Homo sapiens: one gene and its partners. The protein of the gene in region 1 interacts with the protein of each later gene in a biochemical or structural test. Each region holds a gene or a part of one and is shown in the gene's direction. Other genes may lie near its edges.

Evidence for each region. The genes of interacting proteins can lie anywhere in the genome.
Region 2: the proteins of ESR2 (region 1) and TRAM1 form a complex in vitro, tested with the Homo sapiens proteins (one study listed by BioGRID).
Region 3: the proteins of ESR2 (region 1) and NCOA6 form a complex in vitro, tested with the Homo sapiens proteins (one study listed by BioGRID).

The regions. Positions count from the first base shown.
Region 1 is NC_000014.9:64,256,372-64,259,871, reverse strand, and holds part of ESR2 (estrogen receptor beta), read left to right. Parts: intron 1-2,456; exon of another isoform or gene 2,457-2,507; coding exon 2,508-2,646; intron 2,647-3,500.
Region 2 is NC_000008.11:70,591,417-70,594,916, reverse strand, and holds part of TRAM1 (translocating chain-associated membrane protein 1), read left to right. Parts: intron 1-326; coding exon 327-411; intron 412-3,500. UniProt on the Homo sapiens protein: Involved in the translocation of nascent protein chains into or through the endoplasmic reticulum (ER) membrane by facilitating the proper chain positioning at the SEC61 channel.
Region 3 is NC_000020.11:34,738,652-34,742,151, reverse strand, and holds part of NCOA6 (nuclear receptor coactivator 6), read left to right. Parts: coding exon 1-1,789; intron 1,790-3,219; coding exon of another isoform or gene 3,220-3,293; intron 3,294-3,500. UniProt on the Homo sapiens protein: Nuclear receptor coactivator that directly binds nuclear receptors and stimulates the transcriptional activities in a hormone-dependent fashion. Coactivates expression in an agonist- and AF2-dependent manner.

The DNA.
Region 1 (3,500 bases):
ACAGTATGACTAGTTTGAAAGTGAAAGGTTTGTCAGATGCTAAATAGAATTTTGTAAATTATTGTTCCAGTAGAGAATCAATATTATGTACATAAATGAATATGTATGGACAAACAGAGTAAATCAGTGGTTGAAGTTACACGAATCATCAATGGGCCCATAAACCTGGAATGCCATCAAGTTAAAAATGAGCTTAGTTACTCATGAGTTGTCACTTGGAACCTGCGTTTTCCATCCTCCAAAGTGATCACTTCTCTCAAGCCCATTTGTAATATATATCTGAAGTGCTGTATGATGCTAAAATTACCAGCTAATTATCATTTGACTTGGTGTTTCTGTGGAGGAGTGAATCTAGGATTCTAACCTAGAGTGGCAACACCCCACGATCCCCCTGTGACAGCTTCTCCATGCTGTTCTTTACAGTCCTTGAAGAAATGAAGTCTCTTATAAGTTCTGAGCCACTGGGGGCATTCCCATGGCCTGGAGGGCAGCGACTGCACTGGGCAAGCTGTAAAGATGAGGAGGGGTGAGAAGCTGGGGGAAGAGAAGTTTTGGGTAAAGAGCCTGGGGAACTGAGGCCTATGGTGACAGTATCATTTGGGGACTTTTGTTGGCCTGGGCCCATTTCTTCTGAGCTTCCTGAGGATTTTTGGTTTCTAGTTGTATTTTGTTTTGTCTAGCATCTTCACCTTTGCCAGAATTATTTTATTTTCTCTGCTTTTTCCCAGGGGAGGCAATACTGATGCACTTTCCTCTAGTTTTTGCTTTAAATGTATTCCAAACACGATTTTGCAGGACCACACATGGAGAGCAGTGGTGAAATTAATTATTGCTGAAAGCTGTGCACCTTCTTTGTGCCATAAGAAATCTGAACTCTTAAACTGCATTATTCCTTATTCAAGCCTGGTGTTTTGAAAAGTTTTCAGGAAACGTAGACATAATCTGAAGGCGTGATTTTTTTTCTCCTCTCTTAGCTGGCATAGTCATTGTCCAAACCAAAAAATATATATTAAAATATCATCTAGCCTTGATCTTGTTGAATATCTACAAGATTAAGAACCGTGATCTCTCTTGGGTAGGCTTATTGTCAATCACTATGGGTGAGACTGGGAAGGTATATACACATTAGGAACCTAAACTGAGCAAAGCATGTGGATTTAGAAAGTATTTATCCATCTTTACATTCATAACACCATTACATTCTCCTTGAGGCAGATTTGCGTTATAATTGTTCAAAGACTTGAACCATGTGTGTTCTCTCTGCTGTAGTTTCCTCATCTGTAAAACAAGAATGATAAGAGATCCTGCCTATAAGACATTCTCAGAGATAGGCATTGTTACCCCCATTTTCCTATAAGAAAAACAAAGACTTAATGGGAGATTAAGTGAACAGCTAGAAAGAGGCTGAGCTGGGGTTCGAACCAGAGTCCATTTCACTCCAAGGCGGTGTCTTTTGTTATCATATTTATATTACATGGCCCTCTCTTTTTATCATGGCTTGTGAAGGAAGCCCCGGTGTTCTCTGCTTTGCTTTTGAAGTGCTTCCCTCCCCAGAGATTACCTGTTTGCAAACAGTACTGTGACCAACATGGGTTATTAGGTTGTCAGGACCTGCTTCGTTATTATATTTGCTCTTTATTTATTTATTTATTTATTTATTTTTGAGACAGGGTCTCGCTCTGTTGCCCAGGCTGGAGTGCAGTGGCGTGATCTCAGCTCACTACAGCCTCGACCTCCTGGGCTCAGGCGATCATCCCACTTCAGCCTCCAGAGTATCTGGGACTACAGGCACCTGCCACCATGACCAGATAATTTTCTGTAGAGATGGGGTTTCTCCATGTTGGCCAGGCTGGTCTCAAACTCCTGGGTGCAGGCAATCCACCCACCTTGACCTCCCAAAGTGCTGGGATTACAGGTGTGCTTGGCTATATTTGCTGTTTAGGATAGAATCACCCAGAAACAGTGCTTCTACCCAGAAGAAGGATCTTAACACTGGATAGGAAATTTTAATCAATCAGAGAAATCCTTGCAGTTGAGGCCTTGGTTTTCTGTGAGGGCTGGCACTGCTCTCTGCAAGCCTCCAACCCCAACCTCCACCTACCCCATCCCCCACCTACCCCATCCCCCACCCCTTCTGATCCCAGTCAAGGATTGGGTCAGACAGGCAGGTCTTCTGACTGGCAGCCAAGCATCAACATTCTCAGTAGTGCAGAGGAATTATCAGGACACAGCTAACAAAGATCAGTTCTGAGCCGAGGTCGTAGTGCTTGACAAACTCTAAATGAAGTATATTTGTCTCTAGAAGGGGTCCAAGACTGGAAACTAAGTTGCGCAGCTTAACTTCAAAGTTTTCTTCCTTTAATGAGCAGTTAATCACATCTATAAAATATCAACTCCCTAATGGTTTGTGTTTTCTTAGTGTTTTAACACTTGCCATTCTGTCTCTACACACACAGGGAGCTGAGGAGGAGGGGTGGGGGTGTCTCACCGCCTCTTGCTTTCCCCAGGCTTTGTGGAGCTCAGCCTGTTCGACCAAGTGCGGCTCTTGGAGAGCTGTTGGATGGAGGTGTTAATGATGGGGCTGATGTGGCGCTCAATTGACCACCCCGGCAAGCTCATCTTTGCTCCAGATCTTGTTCTGGACAGGTGAGAAAAAATACATTGTGTTTCTTCTCTGACTTGTTTGAGTAAGGTGCTTAGTGAGTGGGAACAAAGTCCTGGGTGCTGCAATTAAAATCTCACACTTGCAGGGCAGAGGATGATAGCATCATCAGCTCCTTCACTGGGTCAAGAACCAGAGAAGGAGAGAGTTGGGTCCAAGGATTCAGGGTCCTGTGACTCATTTTTAATCTGTGGTGCAGCAGCATTTACAGGCCAGCGCTTTAATAGGGGACTGTATCCCGTAGGTATGTGGCCACTATGTGTATAAGTCGACACAGATTTTTCTCCATTAAAAATTCCATTTTCAGGTTATAATCTTAAGTTGTCCTGCTGTTTTTTGTACCTATAGTGACCAATTATATCTGGAGCTTTCTGGACAGGTGATAAAATTCTTAGAAATGTGCCAAGTTTATTTTCACATGCTTTAACTCACTCTTTTGTTTTTTTTTGTTTTGTTTTGTTTTGTTTTTTGTTTTTTTTCTGAGATGGAGTCTCTCTCTGTTGCTCAGGCTGGAGTGCAGAGGTGCAATCTTGGCTCACTGCAACCTCCGCCTACCGGATTCAAGTGATCCTGCTGCCTCAGCCTCTCAAGTAGTTGGGATCACAGGTGTCCACCACCATGCCAGGCTAATTTTTCTATTTTTAGTAGAGAAGTGGTTTCACCATGTTGGCCAGGCTGGTCTTGAACTCCTGACCTCAGGCGATCTGCCCACCTCAGCTTCCCAAAGCGCTGGGATTACAGGCGTGAGCCACCATGCCCGATCTGCTTTAACACATTCTAATGCATGTACTATATAGCATTTTTGGCAATAGCGGTGGAAGGAAGGGTTACTAAAACT
Region 2 (3,500 bases), on another chromosome or scaffold:
TGTTTTCAGTAGCTAACATGACATACTAGTCAGTATTAATGAACTAATAGGGGCTCTGACTCCTCCCAACTGGCTTACATGTCAATAGCTTTCTGCAGATAGTATCTTTGCCTGCTGTTTAATCCAGGGGTCTTGTCCAATGGTGGGACTGTCACAGGGAGATGGGGAAAGAGGTTGTTGAAGAGTTGTTTAAAGGTGCACAGATATTGTATGGAATGATGACACAAAGGTAGTTACTTAGTATATCCTGATTTCCAGTATTTGTTTACTTTTTTTTAAAAAAATTATGCTTTAAAAGGTACTCTTCATTTTCTTGTGTTGTACAGATTTCAAATGAAGTTTTTCTACATATCACAGCTGGCTTACTGGCTTCATGCTTTTCCTGAACTCTACTTCCAGAAAACCAAAAAAGTAAGCTGGGATTTTGTAGTGTTAAAAAATGTCTTGTCATTTTTTTTTTTGAAAAATTTTTCTAAAATTAAGTATTTTCTTACATGTTTGCCCTTCCTCCATTCTTCTTACCTCAACTCTTACCCCATCATTCTCCCACCAACCCTCTTTCCACAAAGCCTAAAATCCTTAAGCATTTCTTGAAAAAAAAAAAAAAAAAACCTTCAGTCAGTATTTTAGCTTAGATTTTTTACATTTGATATGTTAATGGCTTGTCTTAAAATTATGTTAGTGGTAATGTAAATTAAAATTTAAACTAATTTTTAAATGTAATATTTGTTTTATCTTACTGATATTCTTAGCAAATTATTTCACAAGTGAGCCAAAAAGGATTAGTCACATTACAACTAACAGTTCTGTGTGTAAGTCCTAAAGCAAAATTCAGTATTGGAAAAAAAAGTAAAATATATTTAAATATTCACCAGCAAAGCCTCTCTTGAAATGGGTAGAGCATTCCCTTTTTAGCATGTGGAAAGGATATTTGTTTGTTTTATTTGAACAAATAAGTAAACTGCTGGAGCACTGCAAAATCCTCCTTCCTAGTTTTACCCTCAGTGCTTCTGAAGTCGGGTTCCATGCTATCACAAAAGTCGTTTTCTTTACCCTCTCCCTTCTGAAACCTGTATTGGCTCCCTATTACTTTAAACTAGAGTAATGCTGCTCAACTGTGCCCTGAGAGTTTCTCCCATCGCCACCATCTTTTCTCGGGGACCTCTTTCTCTGCTTACTCCTTATGCTTCATGCACACTGATAGTCTCTAGTTTTGTAATCCCAGCACATCACTTCTTTTTCCTGGAACACCTCTTCCCTCGGATAAATTAATCAAGTACTTTCATTTCCCTTTTTTCTGGGAGTTTTTTTTTTTTTTTTAATTCTCATATATGAAATCCTATGTGGGATTTTACTTCAAAATAATACCAGGTGAAGGAAAGTGAAGAGGGATATAGATGAAACAAGTTTGATCGTTTATTAATAATGATTGAGTTACGGGTATGTCAGAATCTTTTCTGTCTGTTGTGTATATGTTTACATTTTTCCGCATTTAAAATTTCTTTTTTTTTTTTTTAATCCCCTTTGAGAAACCTGGAGTGAAAGTGTGACAGCCAGTCTGGTGACTAGTTTATCTTTGCCTACTCAAAAGCCATAAAACACTATTTTTATGTGTGCTACAAATAGTTAATTCATGGACTAGGCACTTGATTTCCTACTGTTTCGTGTCTGTGTTCTGTGTATCTGTCGTTACTCATGTTGTCTGCTAGGATTAGAAAACAGCACCAAATTAAAGGCCATATGCTATGGTACTTAAGTTCTTTTTATGCTGATTTCTTTTATAAAGTAGATTGTTTCTCCAGCTATATTGATAAGGAATAGGATGAAGACCTTTTATTTTTAAACCCTTGATTTAGAACTGTCTTCAGATAAAATTGTTAGGCCCAGATTCCAGTAGCCCTTCCATGTTTAGTAAGCTCCTAATGTGAATCATAGATATTGTGGAGCTGTACTGTCCAAAATGCTAACTACTAGTCACATCTACATGAACTTAAAAAACAAAAACGAAATTGACTTTTTTAGCCCCAGTAGCCACATTTCAAGTGCTTATTAGCTACTGTGGCTAGTATGTACCATTTTGAACAGAGGAGATATGGAACATTTCCATGATTGCAGAAAGTTCTATTGGACAGCGCTACTGAGAGTATCATAGTTTCTTGATGTCTTAGTAGCATGGCTCAGATATTTAAAGCCTTCTTAAGGTATTTGTATACTCATGAACAAATACCTCTGGATTTCATTATTAATCCATGTCTATATCTTCTTCATTGACTATGGTAAGTAAGAAGGGACATTTCAAAGTAATTGTTCATTTTAGTTCCTGAAGCTCTTTTCTTATCAGTTCCTGCCAGATGGCACTTCTCCAGAAATGCAGTCTAATTTTTATGGAATAATTTGCATAACTCAGAACTTAACTGAAACTATTTTTAACACCTGCATATGACAGTTGAAAGTAACTGTTTCAAGTAATTAACATAATTTGAAAGTAGCAGCTGCATATGTGTTAAACAGTTTCTTAAAATTTACTCTATGAAAATTATTTTTGGAACTCTTTACTGGAAGAAACTAGTACAGTGATTGTTTTGAACCAATCATACAGACAAATAGGAAAGAAAGGAACGCTGTTAGTAGCAGTTCAAGAGGTGTGTTAGTCACAAATAACTTAGTTTCTTTCAAAGATAAAACTTAAATTACATATACTGTGTATATAAACAGTTCTCCATTTTGCCCATGAGAAGATTCAAAATATTTCGTAGACAGCTTGAATATATGAGCTTTTAGGGAAGTCATGAAATAGCCAAATGTTTTATTTCTAATATTCAATTTTAGTTTAATTATACATACATATAATTATACATACCTATAATTGCATATCATATAAAGTATTAGAAATAGTATTTTCCCCCTTCCTACTTCATGAAAGTTTCATTACACTTTTCATATGCAACTTTGATGTTAGTATCTGTCATTCATCATCACTAGAACCACTTTTTTTTAATCTGATGACATTTTTTCCACATCATGACGTCATCTTCTGTCTCACTGGTTCCTTCATTAGACCTTATAAACCTTTAAAAATGACATTGATTGAAGTTTTCGGGTGTATGTGTCTTACGCAAACATTTATTTGTCAAGATAATTAATACAGAGCTCTATAATGCAGAGCTTTGTAAAGATTTAATTATAAGATGTACCATCTGGGGTTTGGGGGGAGATCTTTGCCTTATATTTGGGGCATATATTTGATATTCAGCTTTGTTTATTTTTCAGTATAGAGTAGTCAAGAAATGTGTTTTTTATAAAAATAAATTTTTTGAAGTATGTTATATTTTTTAATAAACAGATGTTGGAATAACAACTGAAAATGGCACTTGAAGTTATTTACGATTTTATAATTTGTTATGATTTCACCCAGCCTTCTCTGTTCTCTCCCTTCCCCCACAACCCATGTAAATGTGTACGTCCAGAGACCATTGTGCTGGTGCTAGGCAAGGCTTTGT
Region 3 (3,500 bases), on another chromosome or scaffold:
GAGTTGCCGAGAAATGTATTGGTCAGTCCCACTCCTCTGGCCAATCCCCCTGTACCTGGGAGCTTTCCTAACAACAGTGGGCTGAATCCTCAGAATTCTACTGTGTCTGTGGCTGCAGTTGGGGGTGTTGTTGAGGATAACAAGGAGAGCTTGAATGTGCCTCAGGACAGTGATTGCCAGAATTCCCAGAGTAGGAAGGAACAGGTAAACATTGAACTAAAAGCAGTCCCTGCCCAAGAAGTTAAAATGGTTGTCCCTGAAGATCAGTCCAAAAAGGATGGGCAGCCTTCGGATCCTAACAAACTTCCCAGTGTCGAAGAGAACAAAAATTTGGTGTCTCCTGCTATGAGGGAAGCACCAACATCGTTAAGTCAACTTCTTGACAACTCTGGAGCTCCCAATGTGACAATTAAACCCCCTGGGCTTACAGATCTGGAAGTAACACCTCCAGTAGTTTCTGGGGAGGACCTCAAAAAAGCATCTGTCATTCCCACACTGCAGGATCTGTCTTCTTCTAAAGAACCTTCTAATTCCCTAAACTTACCTCACAGTAATGAGCTGTGTTCATCCCTTGTGCATCCCGAATTGAGTGAGGTCAGTTCTAACGTTGCACCAAGCATCCCTCCAGTAATGTCAAGACCTGTTAGCTCTTCCTCCATTTCCACTCCCTTGCCCCCAAATCAAATAACTGTATTTGTCACTTCCAATCCCATCACAACTTCAGCTAACACATCAGCAGCTTTGCCAACTCACTTGCAGTCTGCATTGATGTCAACAGTTGTCACAATGCCCAATGCGGGTAGCAAGGTTATGGTTTCTGAGGGACAGTCAGCTGCTCAGTCTAATGCCCGGCCTCAGTTCATTACACCTGTCTTTATCAATTCATCCTCAATAATTCAGGTTATGAAAGGATCACAGCCAAGCACAATTCCTGCAGCCCCACTGACAACCAACTCTGGCCTGATGCCTCCCTCTGTTGCAGTTGTTGGCCCTTTACACATACCTCAGAACATAAAATTTTCTTCTGCTCCTGTACCGCCTAATGCCCTCTCCAGTAGTCCTGCTCCAAACATCCAGACAGGTCGACCTTTGGTCCTTAGCTCACGAGCCACCCCTGTTCAGCTTCCTTCCCCTCCTTGTACGTCTTCTCCAGTTGTCCCTTCTCATCCCCCTGTGCAGCAAGTGAAAGAATTGAATCCAGATGAGGCTAGCCCTCAGGTGAACACCTCAGCAGATCAGAACACTCTTCCCTCTTCACAGTCAACCACAATGGTTTCTCCCCTTTTGACCAATAGTCCAGGGTCCTCTGGCAACCGGCGAAGCCCAGTCTCGTCTAGTAAGGGCAAAGGAAAAGTGGACAAAATTGGCCAAATTTTGTTGACCAAGGCATGTAAGAAAGTTACAGGCTCTCTTGAGAAAGGGGAAGAACAATATGGTGCAGATGGAGAGACTGAAGGCCAAGGGCTAGACACCACAGCTCCGGGGCTCATGGGAACAGAGCAGTTATCCACAGAGCTGGACAGTAAAACCCCAACGCCCCCAGCACCCACTCTGCTAAAAATGACCTCTAGCCCTGTGGGCCCGGGCACTGCCTCAGCAGGACCCAGCTTACCTGGCGGTGCTCTCCCCACCAGTGTACGCTCGATAGTAACCACTCTGGTACCCTCCGAGCTCATCTCCGCCGTACCGACCACAAAAAGCAATCATGGTGGCATAGCATCTGAGTCACTTGCGGGTGGCCTAGTGGAGGAGAAGGTGGGATCCCATCCAGAACTTCTACCCAGCATAGGTATGTACTTGGGGCTTCATCATCTCTTTGTGTCAGTTTTTTGATGACCTAATCCCACAAGAGAAAGCATGACTCCTTTTTTACTTGGAGGAAAGAGAATGGGCTAAATGGCAATAGCAGTAGTTTTATTTATTGAAAGTACGTTGGAAAATATGCTTTTAAATCCCATGTTAAGTTTGCATTCATTAAAGAGAGCTAAGGGCCAGGTGCGGTGGCTCACGCCTGTAATCCCAGCACTTTGGGAGGCCGAGGTGAGTGGATCAGTTGAGGTCAGGAATTCGAGACCAGCCTGGCCAACATGGTGAAACTGCATCTGTACTAAAAATTCAAAAATTAGCCAGGCATGATGGCACACACCTGTAATCCCAGCTACTCAGGAGGCTGAGGCATGAGAATAGCTTGAACCTGGGAGCAGAGGTTGCAGTGAGCTGAGATCATGCCACTGCACTCCAGCCTGGGCAACAGAGCGAGACTCTGTCTGAAAAAAACAAAACAGAGAGCTAAGGCTCTCAAAACAAAGAGTTCCTGAAATAATGATACCTTTCATTTATATAAGTTTTTCAATTTATAAGGAAGCATTTTTACATATGTTGTCTTGCATCATCTTTATACCAACTATGTCAGATATTCTTAACCCCATTGTATGGGTGAGAAGATTGAAGCTCAAAGACGTTCAGTGTTTGTTCAGAGTCTATACTGTGAACCTCCCATTTAACACTGTGCCTTAAGTGTGAACAGCAGCTTCTGCAGATTCTCTTTACCAGGGTGAAGATTTGCTCATGACTATTTCAGAACAATGGGTCCTCATAGCCCCATTCTCACTGTACTCTATCTCAGGAACCATTCTTTTTTTGTCTGGGCTACTCTAGAGGAGAGCTGGAAGAAAACTGGGTTTCATGATAATGGACACAGTAGAAACAAAGTGGTCAAGAGCCAGTAGGCTTGGGTTGGTATTATAACACCAGCATTTACCAGCTATATGGGCTTGGGCAAGTTACTTGACCACTCCAGACTTTGGTTTCCTCCTTTGTAATATGGAACAATAATAGTTGTAAGAATTCAATAAGGTAGTACATATAACATTCTTAGCACAGAACCTAGCATATAATTATTATTCAATAAATGGTAAAAATTGTTATTCCCAGTTTCTTTTTGATGTAATCTCTTTGTTGATTGGTACATTCCATTTGTGTATCTAGTTCAGGCTATTTCCTATGTACTGTTAAGATGGGCTAATGATGGAAGCATAGGTGTCCTTACAACCGCCCCTCCTTCCCTTCTTCCCTTCCCTGACATGTTCCTCCTCCTGTGAGGCTTAAGTGAAGAAGCTCTATTTCCCCAGAGTGGAGTCAGTCACACACTGCTAGAGCTGGGAAAGACCTTTACGATATCCTAGGCCAGCTAATTAAGTGCCTATCTTATTTATGCAGCTAAAATGCTTCGAGTGCCTACCACTGAGTGGTAAGCACCCAGGAGGAGAGGCAGAAAGAACACAAACTTCAGGGTAAGATCAGAGTTCAAATTCTAGCCCACTGGTTACCAGTTACAGTTGATACGTTCCTTAACCTCTCCTAAGCCATGTATTTCACTTGTAAAATGGAGATCGTACATTCTACCTCCCAGAATTTAGGATTCTGAGAGAGGACTCAATGAGAAGATTTGTCAAGTGGCCAACACACTGCCTCACGCAGAGCTCTGGAAAGGTTAATTC